2 separate regions of the Homo sapiens genome follow, and region 1 is linked to region 2. The links come from fine-mapping of genetic effects on gene expression. Tissue or cell type: adrenal gland. Region 2 holds a variant in brackets; the other region holds the start of a gene. All regions are shown on one strand. Distances are from middle to middle.

Region 1 (8,000 bases), 32 kb before region 2:
TCTCGAAGAGGCAGCAGAAGAGGAGGAAGGAGGAAGCTATGGGGAGGAAGAAGAGGAGCCAGCGATCGAGGATGTGCAGGAGGAGACACAGCTGGATCTTTCCGGGGATTCAGTCAAGACCATCGCCAAGCTATGGGATAGTAAGATGGTAAGAGGACAAGAGGTGTTCCTAGCAGGGGGCTCTAGACAGAATCTCCCAGAAGGGGGTGATACAGGCTTCTTTTTGAAGAGTGCTGGATTCTGACTGTCTTCTCCTTTCCTACAGTTTGCTGAGATTATGATGAAGATTGAGGAGTATATCAGCAAGCAAGCCAAAGCTTCAGAAGGTGCTTCCTCCCACTCTGTGCCCCTCCCCATCTCCTGTCTCTCCTGCCAGGCCCCCTGGCTCCCTGGCTGCTTGTGGCTGGGTATATCTCCTTCTCAGCCTTTTCCAGAGCCTTCTTTTTTTTTTGTTTCACCCCAACCCGTTCCCTTTTCCACTAAATATATATTGCATTGTAAAGCTCATGCTTCTTAAGTCCTTCCTGTGTGCTGAGCTTACTGATCATGATAGGACTCAGCTTGAGGTTTCCCAGACTTCACTGATTCACATGACCGGTTACAGGGTTTTTGCCACATCTATAAGCCGCTTATCCTATTATTTGCTTAACATATTCTTTGAGTCTAGGACTTTTTTTCTTAAATTTATCTGAGAAGGAAGCAAATTGCTACCATGAATGGAAAACTGGTATCATTTGGCAAAGACAAAGTCACTGTATAAAAATAGATATATAATTATTTAGGAACCACCTAAGGCCGGGCGCCGTGGCTCACGCCTGTAATCCCAGCACTTTGGGAGGCGGAGGCAGGTGGATCATGAGTTCAGGAGATCGAGACCATCCTGGCTAACACGGTGACACCCCGTCTCTACTAAAAATACAAAAAATTAGCCAGGCGTGGTGGCGGGTGCCTGTAGTCCCAGCTACTCAGGAGGCTGAGGCGGGAGAATGGCGTGAACCTGGGAGGCGGAGCTTGCAGTGAGCCGAGATCGTGCCACTGCACTCCAGCCTGGGCGACAGAGCAAGACTCCGTCTCAAAAAAAAAAAAAATAACCTAAAACCTTTTCTCATGCCCAAATTGAGAGAACACTAGCTTATCTCATGAGTGCTCAGACTCACTCTTAAGAGGGCAGTCCTGTTACCATTCCTATTCTTTTTTTTTTTTCCTTGAGATAGAGTCTCCCTCTGTCGCCCAGGCTGGAGTGCAGTGATGTGTTCTTGGCTCATTGCAACCTCCACCTCCCGGGTTCAAGCGATTCTCCTCCCTCAGCCTTATGTATAGCTGGGATTACAGGTATGCAACACCATGCCTGGCTATTTTGTATTTTTTAGTAGAGATGGGGTTTCACCATGTTGACCAGGCTAGTCTCGAACTCCTGACCTCAAGTAATCCGCCCACCTCGGCCTCCCAAAGTGCTGGGATTACAGGCATGAGCCACTACGCCCAGCCTTCCCATTCTTCTTGAATGGAATTTGTTGATGACAGGAAGCCATAGGAGGTTTCTGGGGAAAGAAGTGTAGTGAGAGGGCAGAGTTTCGGGAGACTCACTGCTTGCTTTCTTTAACGTTTACCTGGGCACCCAGTTGAATCGCCCAGGTCTTTGCTCTCAAAGTACTCAAGGTCTAGTGGAAGAGGCAGGCCAGGTTCCAGACAGCTATCAGTGGTGGTACCAAGCTGGGGACACCGGAGCCACAGGAGGGACTGGCTGACCCTGCCCCAGGTGTCAGGAAGAATCGATAGCTGAATTGGACTGTAGAGCATGAATGCATGTGCCAGGCAAAGAAAGGGAGAAGGGGGCCCAGGGAAAGACAGCGGCAGGCCCGGGGCCTCAGATATCCGGAGAGAGAATCCTGCAGAGTTCCAGATGCCAGGCCAAGGAATTTCTCCCTCCAGAGGGTTATGGGACACAGAAAGTGACATTTCCTGATGTCAGGCCAGGCTCAGGGATGGAGTCAGACCCCGTCACACCCGGTGTCTGGTTGAGGAGGCAGAGGTGAAACATCTCACAAGCTGTGGCAGTCCCTGTTTACTGGAGGTGCACAAGTGCTGCGGGTACACAGAGGAGGCGTCTGATCCTTCCAGAAAGGGAGGGAAGGATTCTGAGTCGCTGCCTGAGTCTTAAGGACTTAAAGAGCCATTTGAGCATCAGGGTTAGGAGTGCAGACTCTGACGCCGCCCTGCCTGGTGTCAGATCTGAGCTCTGCCTTCTACTGGCTGTGACATCAGGCAGTTAGTATTTGCATGACTTTTAAACACAACATCTTTTTGTTTGTTTGTTTTTTGAGACAGGGTCTCACTCTGTCACCCAGGCCAGAATGCAGTGGCACGATCCCAGCTCACTGCAGCCTTGACCTTGTGGGCTCAGGCGTTCCTGCCTCAGCCTCCCAGGCAGCTGGGACCACAGGTGTACACCACCATGCCTGGCTAATTTTTTTTCTTTAATTATGTGTAGAGATGGGGTCTCCCTATGTCGCCCAGGTTGCTCTCCAACTCCTGGGCTCAAGCAGTTCTCCTGCCTCAGCCTCCCAAAGTGCTGGGATTACAGGTATGAGCCACTGTGCCTGACCTCTTATTACTAAAGCACAAAGAAGCGTTTTCCAGAAACAGACGTGGGGTAAGGGATGCTCTGGGGAGAGGGAGCAGCACATGCAGAGGCCAGGAGGGGTCTGGCGCGGTGGCTCACGCCTGTCATCCCAGCACTTTGGGTGGTCAAGGCAGATGGATCACCTGAGGTCGGGAGTTCGAGACCAGCCTGCCCAACATGGTGAAACCCCGTCTCTACTAAAAATACAAACAAACAAAAAAAATTAGCCGGGCATGGTGGCACATGCCTGTAATCCCAGCTACTCAGGAGGCTGAGGCAGGAGAATCGCTTGAACCCAGGAGGCGGAGGTTGCAGTGAGCTGAGATCATGCCACTATACTCTAGCCTGGGCAACCAGAGCGAAATTATGTCTCAAAAAAAAAAAAAAAAGGCTAGGAGGAGTGGGTGTCTGGGGCACTGTGATCACTCCTTTATGGCTGGAGTGGAATAAAATGAGGTGTGGTGAGAGGATGGGGCGGGAAGGGCGGGAGGCCAGACTGCAGAGCTGCTGAGTCAGCAAACAGGAACGGGGGAACTCCCTGTGTGCCAGGTGCTGTCCTGGGTACTCGGCTGTGGGTACAGCCAACGCAGGCACAGCACTGGTCCCTGCAGAGCTTCCGGAGTTGGGGAGGCCCTGAATGTCAGTCTGAGGACTCGGTCATTAGCCTTGGGGCTGTGGGGAGCCGTAGGAGGTTTCACACGGTCAGTTCTGGGGTAGATGGGGTCAAGTCTAGACTGGTGTGGAGGGAGAGGGATTGAAGGCAGGAACACAAGTTCAGGGATGTCTGCAGACATCAGCCTGTCCCTGGTTTACTCTTCAGCCCCTCCTTCCTGACCCCTCCCAACTTCATCCTCCGCCTCCTCCAGCTGCGGGACCCGAGAGGGGGTAGGGATTTAGATACTCACACCCATGCCTCCGTGTCCTCACAGTGATGGGACCAGTGGAGGCCGCGCCTGAATACCGCGTCATCGTGGATGCCAACAACCTGACCGTGGAGATCGAAAACGAGCTGAGTGAGTGCTGGGGGGCAGGCGGAGACAGCCCCGTGTGACGTCCCTCACGCCCCCTCTCCCTTCCCCACTGGCCTTTCCCAGGGTCCTGCCCCTAAGCCCAAGCTCAGATCGAGGTTGACCTGCTGTCACAGAGTGGCTGAAATAAGAAGGAAGTGCGTTCTCTCGCGTATGAGTCTGAGGAGCACTCGGGGATGGTGTGGCCGCTTGGCTGCCTGTAGGGCCCCGGCTCTTTCCATCCTGTTGGTCGGCCACCTGCCTCACGGTGCGAGGTGACTGCCCCACCTCCAGCCATCACCTCCGCATTCCCACCAGCAAGGCGCTTCTTTTCTTTAAGAACATGTCACTGCAGCTCACGTTTTACAGACCAGAACTAATTCCCCTGGTCACACCTAGCGGTAAGGACGGCTGAGAAAGGCTGTATGCTGGTGCCCGTGTGCCAGGCCACAAGCCAGGGCTTCAGTTACTAAAGGAAGAAGGGGACATGGGTGTTAGGGCCAACCAGCAGAGTCTACCTTCCATCTCACCCGACAACCTCCTGTCCCGTTTACCCTAGACATCATCCATAAGTTCATCCGGGATAAGTACTCAAAGAGATTCCCTGAACTGGAGTCCTTGGTCCCCAATGCACTGGATTACATCCGCACGGTCAAGGTGAGCGCAGAGAAGGTGGGGTGCTTCTGCTGGCGTGAAGGGGCAGGCGGGGCTCACTCTCGGACCCCCTCCCAGAGGCCTGAGGGTCTGGAGACGATGGAGAGGAGTGGACGAGGGCTCAGTGGTCTGCTCTGCCCAGCGTGGGAGGGACGGAGCCTGGACAGGACTTTCTCAGGGCTCCCCTCCAACCCCAGTCTCCCGAGAGGGCTTCCCCGCTGGCCTGACCCACGCTGCTCCCGCTGTGGTTGGAGCCGGTGGCATTGGAGTTGACATCCGAAGGTTGACACAGGGCAGGCACACGGAGATTTGGGGGAGAGAGACGTCTAAGTGCAGAGAGCTGGAGAGGGAACAAGTGGGGAGGAAGTGAGGCGGGGAAGGAGGGGACGGGGAAGAGGTCGGATCACGTCCAGCCTTTGGGTCTTAGGAGAAAGCCAAGGAAGGGTTTCGGAAAAGAGGGGCAGGTGTGCGTGAGGGCGGGGAGAGGAGGAGGTCCCCACGCATGTCCAGGAAAGGATTAGGATGGCGGTGGGGAAGCCCCTGCAGGGAAGCGAGGCCGCGGATTTGCACTCCGACTTGACGCAGGCCAGAGGCTTGTGAGGCCACAGTCTTTCCAGACGCCACTCTGCCCGGGCTCCGTTTCCAGGTCAGCGAAAGCAGGGCAGATGGTGTGGATGCTTGACGTGGTGGAGGCAGGAATGGTGTGGATGCTTCAGGCGGTGGAGGCAGGAGAGGCCCCCAGTGCAGAGACCCTGACTGTCCCAGTGTCCCTAAGAAGAGACCTGAGGAGGTGCTGAGCAAGAGAGGTTCTCGAGCCTTCCTGAGTTCCCGAGCCTCCCCTATCTTCTCTGCTCGCCCCCAGGAGCTGGGCAACAGCCTGGACAAGTGCAAGAACAATGAGAACCTGCAGCAGATCCTCACCAATGCCACCATCATGGTCGTCAGCGTCACCGCCTCCACCACCCAGGGGTATGTCCGCTTCGAGGGAGGCGCCGGGCCCTAATGGGATTGGGGATTAGGCTGGAGCTACACACGCAGGTGTACACACGCACACACACATACACACATGCACACACACACACAGAACCGAGAGGGCTGGGGCTGGGCACACCAGGCAGGCGGGAGACCCAGGAGGCTGGGCCCACCCGCCCCTGCAGGCAGCAGCTGTCGGAGGAGGAGCTGGAGCGGCTGGAGGAGGCCTGCGACATGGCGCTGGAGCTGAACGCCTCCAAGCACCGCATCTACGAGTATGTGGAGTCCCGGATGTCCTTCATCGCACCCAACCTGTCCATCATTATCGGGGCATCCACGGCCGCCAAGATCATGGGTGAGTCCCCGGGCTGGGTCCCATGGAGCGGGGGTCTGCTGACACTGTGACCTTGGGAAAGCTACATCCTTTTCTGTAGAATGGGGGCTTTGGCACCTGGACCTCAGCACCCCGTCTCCCTGGACATCACAGAGGTCAGCCAGCCTGGCACACAGCAAAGCCTCATCTGTGGGAAAAACACTCACCCACAGCTCCTTCTCCCTCCCCTGTGCCGGAAACCCAGAGATGACCACACCCAGGCCCTGTTGTCAGGGAGCTCCTGGTTTGGTGAAAATGGTTCCAAAACACAGCCATCCCTGGAACGGCGTTAGTGTGGCTTAGCACAAACGTGGTGGTCAGCTTCCTGTTGGGGGCCTCCTCCCTGCACCCCCAGGCCAGCTGCCCTCCCTCTCTGAGCCTCCTTTGCATCTGCCCCTTGCGGAATGGGCCAGGTCGCCCGCCTGGCAGGGCCATCGAGGAATCCAACCAGAACTTCATGTAAAGGTGCCCAGCACACGTCGAGCCCCCAGGCAGATTTACTCACCCCCACCTCTCTGCTTTCTTCTGACCGCCCCCCCTTCCTCCCTCCCTCCCACCGCAGGTGTGGCCGGCGGCCTGACCAACCTCTCCAAGATGCCCGCCTGCAACATCATGCTGCTCGGGGCCCAGCGCAAGACGCTGTCGGGCTTCTCGTCTACCTCAGTGCTGCCCCACACCGGCTACATCTACCACAGTGACATCGTGCAGTCCCTGCCACCGGTGAGCCCACTGCGTCATGGCCCCTCCCCCGGCCCCCCTGGAGCCTTCCGCTGTGCCCAGACAGCCTGAGCAGCCACCCACCATCTGGCCCAGCTGACGGTAGCACTCAGGAGCTGGGAACAGGGTGGCATGGGACGTGAGAGCCAGGGCTCTGCAGCAGACCAGCTCCAGCACCCACCAGTCAGGTGACTGTGGGCAAGAGGCATGAGCGCCCTGTGCCTCAGTCTCCTCCCCTATCAAATGGGAGCACAGCGCCTGCTTCATGAGTTGGGACGAGGGCTCAGTGCACATGAAGCACTTACAGTTCAGGCCTAGCTCACGACAAGCAGCGTCGGGTTAGCGTGCAACTGCTCCGAAGACCACCCTCAGGTTTGACCATTCACTAGAAAGACTCACAGAATCCACTGAGGGCTGCACATCAGCCATGGGGAGAGACACACAGGAGGGGCAGGAGAGGTCACCAACCTCGGAGCTTCCCGGGTCCTCTCCCTGCAGTCGGGACACATCACCATCCCAGCATCGACGCCTGACAGCACACACACAGGCCCGCTAGCCTGGCGGGGCGCAGTGGCTCGTGCCTGTCATCCCAGCACTTTGGGAGGCCGAGGCGGGCAGATCACCTGAGGTCAGGTGTTCGAGACCAGCCTGGCCAACATGGTGAAACCCCATCTCTACCAAAAATACAAAAAACTAGCTGGGTATAGTGGCACACACTTATAATCCCAGCTACTTGGGAGGCTGAGGCAGGAGAATCGCTTGAACCCAGGAGGTGGAGGTTGCAGTGAGCTAAGATCATACCACTGCCCTCCAGCCTGGGTGACAGAGTGAGACTCTGTCTCAAAAAAAAAAAAAAACAAGCAAGACAGGTTCTGGGACAGACAGGCCTGGGTCCAGACCCTGCTCTGTCCAACTGTGGCGAGTTACCTCAGGCTCACGGCCCTGTGCCCTGCCTGGCCTCCCCCAGGGATGGGGAGAACAATAGCACTGATGGCCAAGGCTGGGCAGGCACTTCCTGGCCCCACCCCCCAGCCCTGTGTGGGGTTTTTTTTGTGGTCTTTTCTGCGACCCTTTAGGTCAGGCACTGCTACTGGAACACACCCAGGGAGGCTGGCAGGTCACCCCATCCTGGGAGGAGAGAGAGTGGGCGATAGAACCCAGGACGGGTGGGCCTGGGGCTCGGGGCTCCAGCTGCCTCACTGCACCCCTGCCATCGCCACCGCCTCACAGCCCTGGGCATATGGGTTAAACCTGCCCCAGGGAGCCTGATGTCTTGTCACCCAGGCCTCTGCCTCTTCATTTGGCCATCTCACATCGGTCCAGGCACAGGCCGTAGACACCACAGGCCTGTAAGGGAGGCCAGGGCTGGCCATCGCTTCACTGTGGCTGACAGCTGGGCTCTGTTTGCAGTTTGGATTGGAACCCTGGCTCCATCACCTGCTGGCTGTCTCCCTGGCCACATGACTTGAAGCCTTGGTTTCCACATCTGAAAAGGGGGTGCAATGATCACACCAGCCCGATATTTGAATATTTGATGAGATGATCCGAGGGGCGTGCTTAGCATGGGGCTGGCATCCAGGCCGAGTGCACTCCCCCCGGCGTCTCCACAGTCACCACCGTCCTCGTTGTCAGCGTGCCTTACTGTCATCCTTAC
Region 2 (8,256 bases):
TGCGCGCCCAGGCTGTCCAGGTCCAAGTCTTGGCATTGTCCTTTCTGTGCCTTCATCTGGGAAACGGCAATAGTCACGATTATACCTACTATGTAGGGTTATTTGGAAGACTAAATCATCCTCATAAAGCTCTTGGAACAGTTTCTGGCCCAACAGAAGCATTAATTTTTTTTTTTTTTCTTTTTTGAGACAGAGTCTTGCTCTGTCACCCAGGCTGGAGTGCAGTGGTGCAATCTCAGCTGAATGCAACATCCGCCTCCTGGGTTCAAGCGATTCTCCTGCCGCAGCCTACTGAGTAGCTGGGATTACAGGCGCCTGCCACCACGCCAGGCTAATTTTTATATTTTTAATAGAGATGGGGTTTTGCCATGTTGGTCAGGCAGGTCTTGAACTCCGAACCTCAGGTGATCCACCCACCTTGACCTCCCAAAGTGCTGGGATTACAGGTGTGAGCCACCGTGCCCGGCCCAAATTTTAGAAGTAGGTGGACAGGATATTTATAGTGCGTGCATTTTTCTGGAAAAAGGGAAACAGCAGCTTTGAGATTTTCAGAAGGGGTCCATATCTTTTAACACCACCAACAACAAAAATGAATCGCTGGGGTGGGTGGTCGGGAACCATGGCAAGGTTTGGAGTAGAGAAGGAACAACATGACTTCATTGGAAAGGTCCCCTGGGGCTGGTGAGGACAGGATAGAGGGAGGGTGGTCTGGGCAGGAGAGGACAGGCCTGGGCTGTGTGGGACATGGTGGCACGACAGGGAAGGGAGCCATCCAGTGGGGTTTAGAAGCAGGACGGATAGCTGGGCGTGGTGGCTCACACCTGTAATCCCAGCTCTTAGGGAGGCAGAGGCGGGAGGATAGCTTGAGCCCAGGAGTTTGAGACCTGCCTGGGCGATATAGCGAGACAGGATGGATAAGCCTTGGCGACTGACTCGTTGTGGAGAGTCCAGCACAGGGCTGGGGTTTGGGACAGCTGCACGTGGCTGGAGGAGATGGGAGGAACCAGCCCTGACTTTGGGGAACAGAAGCCTGCTGTAACCTTTGTAATAGGAAACGAGGCTGTGGCTGCGGGGCTGGAGACCCAACCTACCTGTTTCCAGCAAGGAGACTGAAGCCTAGCCGGGCTGGGCCCACCCCGATTCCAGTCACCCCATGCCAGTCACAGGCAGACAGCTGAGCATGTAGACCTCCTGCCTCCTTCAAGACAGGCGGGAGCTCTCCCAGCGTGTAGGTGTCCCTAGTGAAGGAGCGTGTACTATTGGCACATCCTTTGACAAAAATGGTAGCGCACTGTACATATTCTGCAGGTTGGCGTTTACTTCTGTAGTATGTCACGAACTTGTATTTTGAAAATCTCGGCGTAGTATTCCATGCTGCAGAGTCCCACTCACGAGACGTTCCTCTGCTGATGAATGCGTCGTGGTCTCCGATTGTTTCCCTACAGTTTGATGCTTTTACCTGTCATGGGTAGATTGTGGGGAGTGGGTCGTTGGCCCTCCACGGCCCCCAAACAGGGCAGGTGAGAGCATCTGGGGCCTGTGTCAGGCTGCACTTGCTCCTGCAGCCCAAGTGCTCAGGCCAGGCCTCTTGTTTCCTCCCCAGGCCCCTGAGCCTCTGAGCTCCTTGAAGTCCATGGCGGAACGGGCAGCCATCAGCTCTGGCATTGAGGACCCTGTGCCAACGCTGCACCTGACCGAGCGAGGTGAGGGACCCAGGATGGTGGGGAAGCAGCGGGCCAAAGAGGAGGGGCTGCCCCTGACCCATCCTCACCACTGAGGGGGCCGGACCCCCACCCTCCCCACAGACATCATCCTGAGCAGTACATCAGCACCTCCGGCCTCAGCCCAGCCGCCCCTGCAGCTGTCAGAGGTGAACATACCGCTGTCGCTGGGTGTCTGTCCACTGGGCCCTGTGCCCCTCACCAAGGAGCAGCTCTATCAGCAGGCCATGGAAGAGGCCGCCTGGCACCACATGCCTCACCCCTCTGACTCTGAGCGTATTCGGTGAGGGGCCACAGGGAAGGGGGATGGTCTGGGACTTGAGTCTTACGGAGGAGGCAGTGGCTGAACCTGTGAGGCTGTGGGTAGAGCACCAGGCCCCTGACTTGGGCTCTCCACTGAAGGTCAGCACCGCCCTGGGTCTTTCTGTACCACCTCCCCCCGCAGGGATGCATGTCTGAGCACCCTTTTGATCACGACAGGACTAGTAGGCAGCTGGCACTGACCTTCCTGTTGCTCTCACAGGCAGTACCTCCCCCGGAACCCCTGTCCGACGCCCCCCTACCACCACCAGATGCCACCCCCACACTCGGACACTGTGGAATTCTACCAGCGCCTGTCGACCGAGACACTCTTCTTCATCTTCTACTATCTGGAGGTACAGCAGGGCCCCCGGGGCAGCCTCGGGCCCCCCGGCTTCGCCGCCACCGCCGCCGTCCCCCCTCGGGCTGGAGGGGTGAGGTGGGTGCCCCACTGCGGCCACTGGGACCGCACCCCCTCCCTATTCCCACTCCTGGGCCCCTGCCCCAAATCCACCTGTCCCCGTCCCCGCCTTCCAGCCCAGAGATGTTAGAACTGCTTGGGTTGACAGCGAGGCTGGTCCACTGAGGCACACCTCAGCCCCGCTTCCAGTTGCCCACTGGCTCACCCGCGGCCCCTCCCCAGCCCTGCTCCAGCAGCCCCAGTCTAGGCCGACCCCACTCTGCTCATTGGCACATTCTCAGGCCTCCCTGGAGACCACTGGGGAGCTGTCCAGCCCCCTCCCAACCCCAGTGAGTCATGAGTGACCTCCACCCTCATCCCCACTTGGGAAATTTTCTAAATTGCCTCCTCTCTCAGCTCTCATCACACATTAGTTTTTCTTCCTTCTCAAAGCTTCTCTGAAAGCAATTTTCACCTCCTGTCTCATTTTCCTTCTCCTGATCAGCATTGGTATGTTCTGTGCCCCCAGCCCCATCTCCAAGAGGATTGTCCAGCCCAACTGTGGTCTGTGGCGGGGGCCGGGGTTCAGCCCTGATGTCCTGCCCCATTCCCCTGGCTCCCCACCCAGTTTGGGGGCCCCCTGATCCCCCTCTCCACTGTTCCTCCCCCAGGGCACTAAGGCACAGTATCTGGCAGCCAAGGCCCTAAAGAAGCAGTCATGGCGATTCCACACCAAGTACATGATGTGGTTCCAGAGGCACGAGGAGCCCAAGACCATCACTGACGAGTTTGAGCAGGTGAGGGCCCCGCCCCCTCTCTTCCCGCTGCTAGGGTTGGGGTAGAGTCCCCAGGCTCCAGGCAGCCCCTGCTGGCCTCTGCTCCCTTGCCTCCACCTTTCAGCTGGCGCAGTCCCTCAGCCTGACCAAGTACTCCTCCCTCTGGCTGTCTGCTCAGCCTGGAACACCGCCCTCTCATCCTCCACTTGGCCAGCTCCTAGGCCTCCTGTAGGTCTCAGCCCAAATGTCCCTTCCTCAAAGAAACCTTCCTGGAGCCACCCAGCCCAGTGCCTCCCCTTTGCAGTGCTGGGCACACTCGCCTGGGGTGTGGGATTTTCCCAGTATGTGTCCCTGCACCAGGCTGTGGGCTCTGCTGCCGAGGGACCTTGATGGCCCCCACTTCACCTCCAGGTCCCAGCACTCAGCAGGGCAGGGGCTCAGTGCGGAAACTATTTTTTTTGAATGGGCTTCTCAAGTTCTAATACTGGGAAATTCCTGCTGCTTGCAAACACTCTGGAACCAACCTACCTGGGTTTCAGCCCAGTCCAGCTGGGCGACTCTAGGCAAGTCACTCGAACCTCTGTGTCTCAATTAACTTATCTGTAAAAATGGGGGGAAGACCACCTACCTAATGCAGTTGTTATGAAGATTAAATGAGTTAATAACATGTAAGTACTTAATGGTGACTGCTACATAGTCAGTGTCATGGATTTTTTTTTTCAAATTACTTTCAGTTGGTGTGTTCTACAGTGATGTTTTTTTCCACCAAATACTTCCCTGATGCCGAGCCCCTTCATGGGGATGAAGTAGTACAAGGTCCTTGTCCTCAGAGAACTCAGTCCCCTCTCCTGGTTCTCCCAGGTTGCCATCTTTGAAGCACTTAAGACATTCATTTAGAACCTAGGTCCTCTCCCATTGTGTCCTCAGATGTTAACCACAGACTTCCTGTCCTTTCCTGGTTTGGCCCAAAACCATCCTCCAAGTTAGTACATTTCAGGGCATCCAGTCATTCAGAAATTCCCACACCACT[T/TC]CGTCACCAATAAAATGTCCCTGCAGAGTGCTTGGATTTAGACTCTGAGACTGTTCCATTCTCTAGAACAAGGGTGACAGTACCCACTGCCTCGAGGTCTTTGTGAAGATTAAATGCTAGGCTGTGCATCCTGTACTCACGTGAGAGGTGCTCAAAAGCCACAGCCCTCGAGGAAACGAAGGCTGTGCACTCACACCTGGGGCTGGGGCCCCGTTCTGGCAGCTGGCTTCGGTGGAACCTCTGCGGCCCCCTCCGTTTCCTCCTCGCTGAAGTGGCATGATAACATTTCCTACCCAAGAAGAACCTTGTGAGGATGGATGAGAGTGTGTGCGTGCAGGGCAGCTGGCCCGGTGCCTGACACATCCACAGCCCTAAGAATTGTCCCCTTTGTCTGTTGGTCCGGCCCAGATCCCAGACCACCTCCTCGTCCACTCACTGACCGCCTTCTCCCCCGGCCAGGGCACCTACATCTACTTTGACTACGAGAAGTGGGGCCAGCGGAAGAAGGAAGGCTTCACCTTTGAGTACCGCTACCTGGAGGACCGGGACCTCCAGTGACACCGGCCCCTCCCTCTACCCACCCCCTTCCCCCGCATGCTGATCCCCCTGCCCAGGTGAGGGCCCTGCCCTGGAAGACTGGAGGGAGGCCCCAAGCCACGGGGCATCCCCCTCTCCCAGGAAGCAGGGAGGGGGCCGGGAGGTTTTCCTCTCAGCCCCACCCTGGGGGCCCGGGGGCGAGGGCTGCCCCCTCCTCCCCTCCCCAGTGAGGGACATTTTTTGGTAAACCTATTTTCATTTTGGAAAATATTTATGAATAAATAGTTTTATATGACGGCTGGCAGCAGCGGCCTCTCCTGTACCCCCTCAGGAGTCAGTGAGTAAGGTGAGGGTCCTGCTGGCGGGGGCGCCGGGCCAGCTGGGGGTTGAATTGGGAGTTGTACCGCCGCCGCCGGTCATCCGTCTCGTCTTCTTCCGGCTGACCCTCCTGTAGTGCCCGGCCTTGGACCCGGGCCAGCAGGGCCTCTGCCCGAGACCTCTCAGCTGCTTCCCTCCGCAGACGTTCAGCTCGAAGCTGGTCCAGGGATGGAGGCCTGTGGGGAGAGGAGTGAGGTCAGAAAGCTGGTAGCCCCTAGGAGGCCATTCCCCCAACCTCTCCCATAGAGGGAGCTGCCGCCTGGAAGCCCCGCTGCATCCAGCACACCCCAGCCTCAGCTCCTTAGGCCTGCTGGAAGCAGCCACTTGGTGCTGGGACGCCATGGGCACGTCTCTGGCCTTCCCTTCTGTGGGCTTTGGTCCTCCCCAGTCTTTAAAATCTGATGCTTCTCCAGGTCAAGAAAGCACACTTAGCAGCCCCCTGGCCCTCAGTTTCCCTTTCTAGAGGAAAGAAGACTACAGGCAGTGTACCCCCTCTAGACCAGGGGTGCAGCATCCTGGAGACAGAAGCCTGCTTTTACTCTCTAACCCAGCAGCTCTCAAACTCTTTGGTCTCAGGACCCCTTTATACTCTTAAAAACCAAGGACCCCAAGAGCTTTTGTTTAAATGGGTTCTCTTAATATGCTGCAAATCATTAGTGAAAACTAAGAAAGTTTGGACACAAGCATCTGCCATTGGCCATCAGAGTGAGGGTGTCTCCCCATCACACAGCCTCTGGAAACCTGCACTACATGCCTGAGAACACGAGTGGAAAAGTCCACCAGTGTCAGGAAAATAGGCTTGACACCACAGCACCCCGGGAAAGGGTGTCAGGACCCCTAGGGCTCCCTGGACCACATGCTGAGAACCACTTCTCCACCTAGCCAGCCCTTCACGGAGTCCCTGGCTGTCCTGACCAGAGACGCTGCAGTGCCCATGCTGGGCTGCTGCCAAGCCCTGAAGGTCTGGGCCCTGGTCTGCCGAGGTGGGGTCTTCTTACTCCTTGGGTCGCTGCTTCTCAGACCCCTCCTTTTCCTTTCTGCTGCGACTGCCTTCATCACCGCCGTGCTGTCTCTTCTTCCCCAGATGCTTCTGCATCTCCCGCAGAGGGTCCAGACGGCTCTTGATCTTCTCATCTGGGGCTGGGCCGGGCGGGGGGCCCCCTCGCCCTGGGGGTAGCTGGTACCAAGGGGGTTGAGTCTGTGCCTCCGCTGCACTCTGGCCCAGGTATGTCAGGATGCCCAGAGCTTTCTCTTGCCTCTCCTGAGGGGGCCAGGAAATACAAGAGATGTGATATAATCTTTCAAGGTGTCAGGTGTGTCTCCCTGACACAGGTATCTAAGCGAACAGGTATCTAAGGCTTGTTATGAACCAGTTGGACCAGGTGCTGGGGATGGAAGACAAACAGAGGCAAAGCTCCCCCTGGGGGGACAGTAGCAGGTACAGTAACAGCAGGGGAAGGAGGGGACAAGTGGAGCCACTTGAGTGTTCAGAGGCAGGCATCTTTGCAGAGAGACTTGAAGAGAAGCCTGAAGGGATCAAGCAAAGCAGAGGAGCGATGGGTGGGGTCAGCAAGTCCAGAGACAGCAGATAAATGACAAGAGCTGATGTACCTCTTTTTTTTGAGATGGAGTCTCGCTCTGTTGCCCAGACTCGAGTGCAGTGGCACGATCTCGGCTCACTGCAACCTCTGCTTCCCAGGTTCAAGCAATCCTCCTACCTCAGCCCCCCGAGTAGCTGGGATTACAGGCACACACCACCATGCCCAGCTAATTTTTGTATTTTTAGTAGAGACGGGGTTTTGCCATGTTTGGCCAGGCTGGTCTTGAACTTCTGACCTCAGGTGATCCACCCACGTTGGCCTCCCAAAGTGCTGGGATTACAGGCGTGAGCCACCATGCACAGCCACTGATGTACCTTTTACACTTGATCTTAGCCAAAAAGCAAGAGGCGATTGATTCACTTTTTGTTTGATTGTTTTGAGATGGGGTCTCGCTCTGTCACCCAGGCTGGAGTGCAGTGGCGCAATCTCGGCTTACTGCAGCTTCCACCTCCTGGGTCAAGCGATTCTCCTGCTTCAGCCTCCCTGGGATTACAGGCGCGCACCACCATGCCCGGCTAATTTTTTTTGTATTTTTAGAGATACCATGTTGACCAGGCTGGTCTTGAACTCCTGACCTCAGGTGATCCACCCGCCTCAGCCTCCCAAGGTGGTGGGATTACAGGCGTGAGCCACAGCCGGCTGATTTAAATTTTTAAAAGCCCATCAGGTTTGAGACTCCTCCAGTTTGGAGAACTGAGCGGTTTGCCCAGCAGCTGGGGACCTCTAGCATCTACCTCCAACCCCTGTGGGCGCCCAGACGGCAATAGCCAACGCTTTTTGAGTGTCATGCCTTGGTATGGTCCTAAATTCTGTGTGTTCACTCTTGTTTGACCTTGGTCACAACCAATGGCTAAAGTGCCCCCTCCCTCCAACTCGATTCATGGCCCCTCTGATGAAGTGGGTGAGGCCAGCTTACTTTCTCCTGTCGCTTTTCTTCCTTGTACTCTTTATTGCCTCTGATCACTCCTTTCCCTTCCTCCAGCAGCTCCCGAAACAGGTCCACAGGGCCAGAACCTGGGGCTCCCGCCTCTGCTGCTTCAAGCTCAGGCAGTGAGTTCTGATGTCTGGCTTTCTTCCGTAGGAATTCTGTACGGGCCTGGGGAGAAAGTTATAGGCAGGACATTCAGAACCTAGAGGTAATTCAAGAACTGTGAGTCTGGTGCCCACCACAGAAAATGGCAGTCCAGGGTGCTGGGGTTATGAGAAAGGGAGCACTAGGCGCCTAAAAGAGGCACCTGTCCTAGCTGGGGGTGAGGGTAGGCAGATGAGGCAACGCCTGGGTTTTGTAAACTCCCTTTCAAATAGTAAACCACGGGTCATCAAGGATGTATGGGAGGAGGTCCCTGGCCTAAACCAAAGGGGTTCCTAACCTCAAGTGAGACAATTAAAACAGCCATAAAGGTATGCATTAGGCCAGACGATCTGAATTCTAGCCATGGCTCCAAGTGACTACCCCAAGTCTGCTGAAGCCCTGTCCCCTGCCTTCAGGACGCGGATTTCAAACAGCGCTCAG

The links. PIP is the estimated chance that this variant, and not a neighbour inherited with it, causes the effect.
Region 1: it holds the start of PRPF31-AS1, and the variant in region 2 is fine-mapped to the expression of PRPF31-AS1 in adrenal gland (GTEx, PIP above 0.99).

The regions. Positions count from the first base shown.
Region 1 is chr19:54,118,308-54,126,307 of GRCh38, forward strand. PRPF31-AS1 (PRPF31 antisense RNA 1) reads right to left here and starts at 4,335. Exons shown (of 4, transcript NR_186329.1): 1 at 4,185-4,335; 2 at 3,756-4,099; 3 at 3,529-3,608; 4 at 1,203-2,085. It overlaps PRPF31 (pre-mRNA processing factor 31), which reads left to right. Exons shown (of 14, transcript NM_015629.4): 2 at 1-148; 3 at 266-326; 4 at 3,553-3,636; 5 at 4,190-4,287; 6 at 5,147-5,253; 7 at 5,442-5,611; 8 at 6,192-6,349.
Region 2 is chr19:54,150,623-54,158,878 of GRCh38, forward strand. CNOT3 (CCR4-NOT transcription complex subunit 3) reads left to right here. Exons shown (of 18, transcript NM_014516.4): 14 at 1,604-1,703; 15 at 1,806-2,004; 16 at 2,245-2,377; 17 at 3,093-3,218; 18 at 4,687-5,059. The coding sequence ends at 4,785. It overlaps LENG1 (leukocyte receptor cluster member 1), which reads right to left. Exons shown (of 4, transcript NM_024316.3): 2 at 7,660-7,839; 3 at 6,141-6,403; 4 at 4,539-5,318. The coding sequence ends at 5,099. It overlaps LOC102724273 (a long non-coding RNA gene), which reads right to left and starts at 1,605. Exons shown (of 4, transcript XR_001754001.3): 1 at 1,092-1,605; 2 at 1-56. The variant T/TC (reference allele first, on the strand shown) is at 4,228.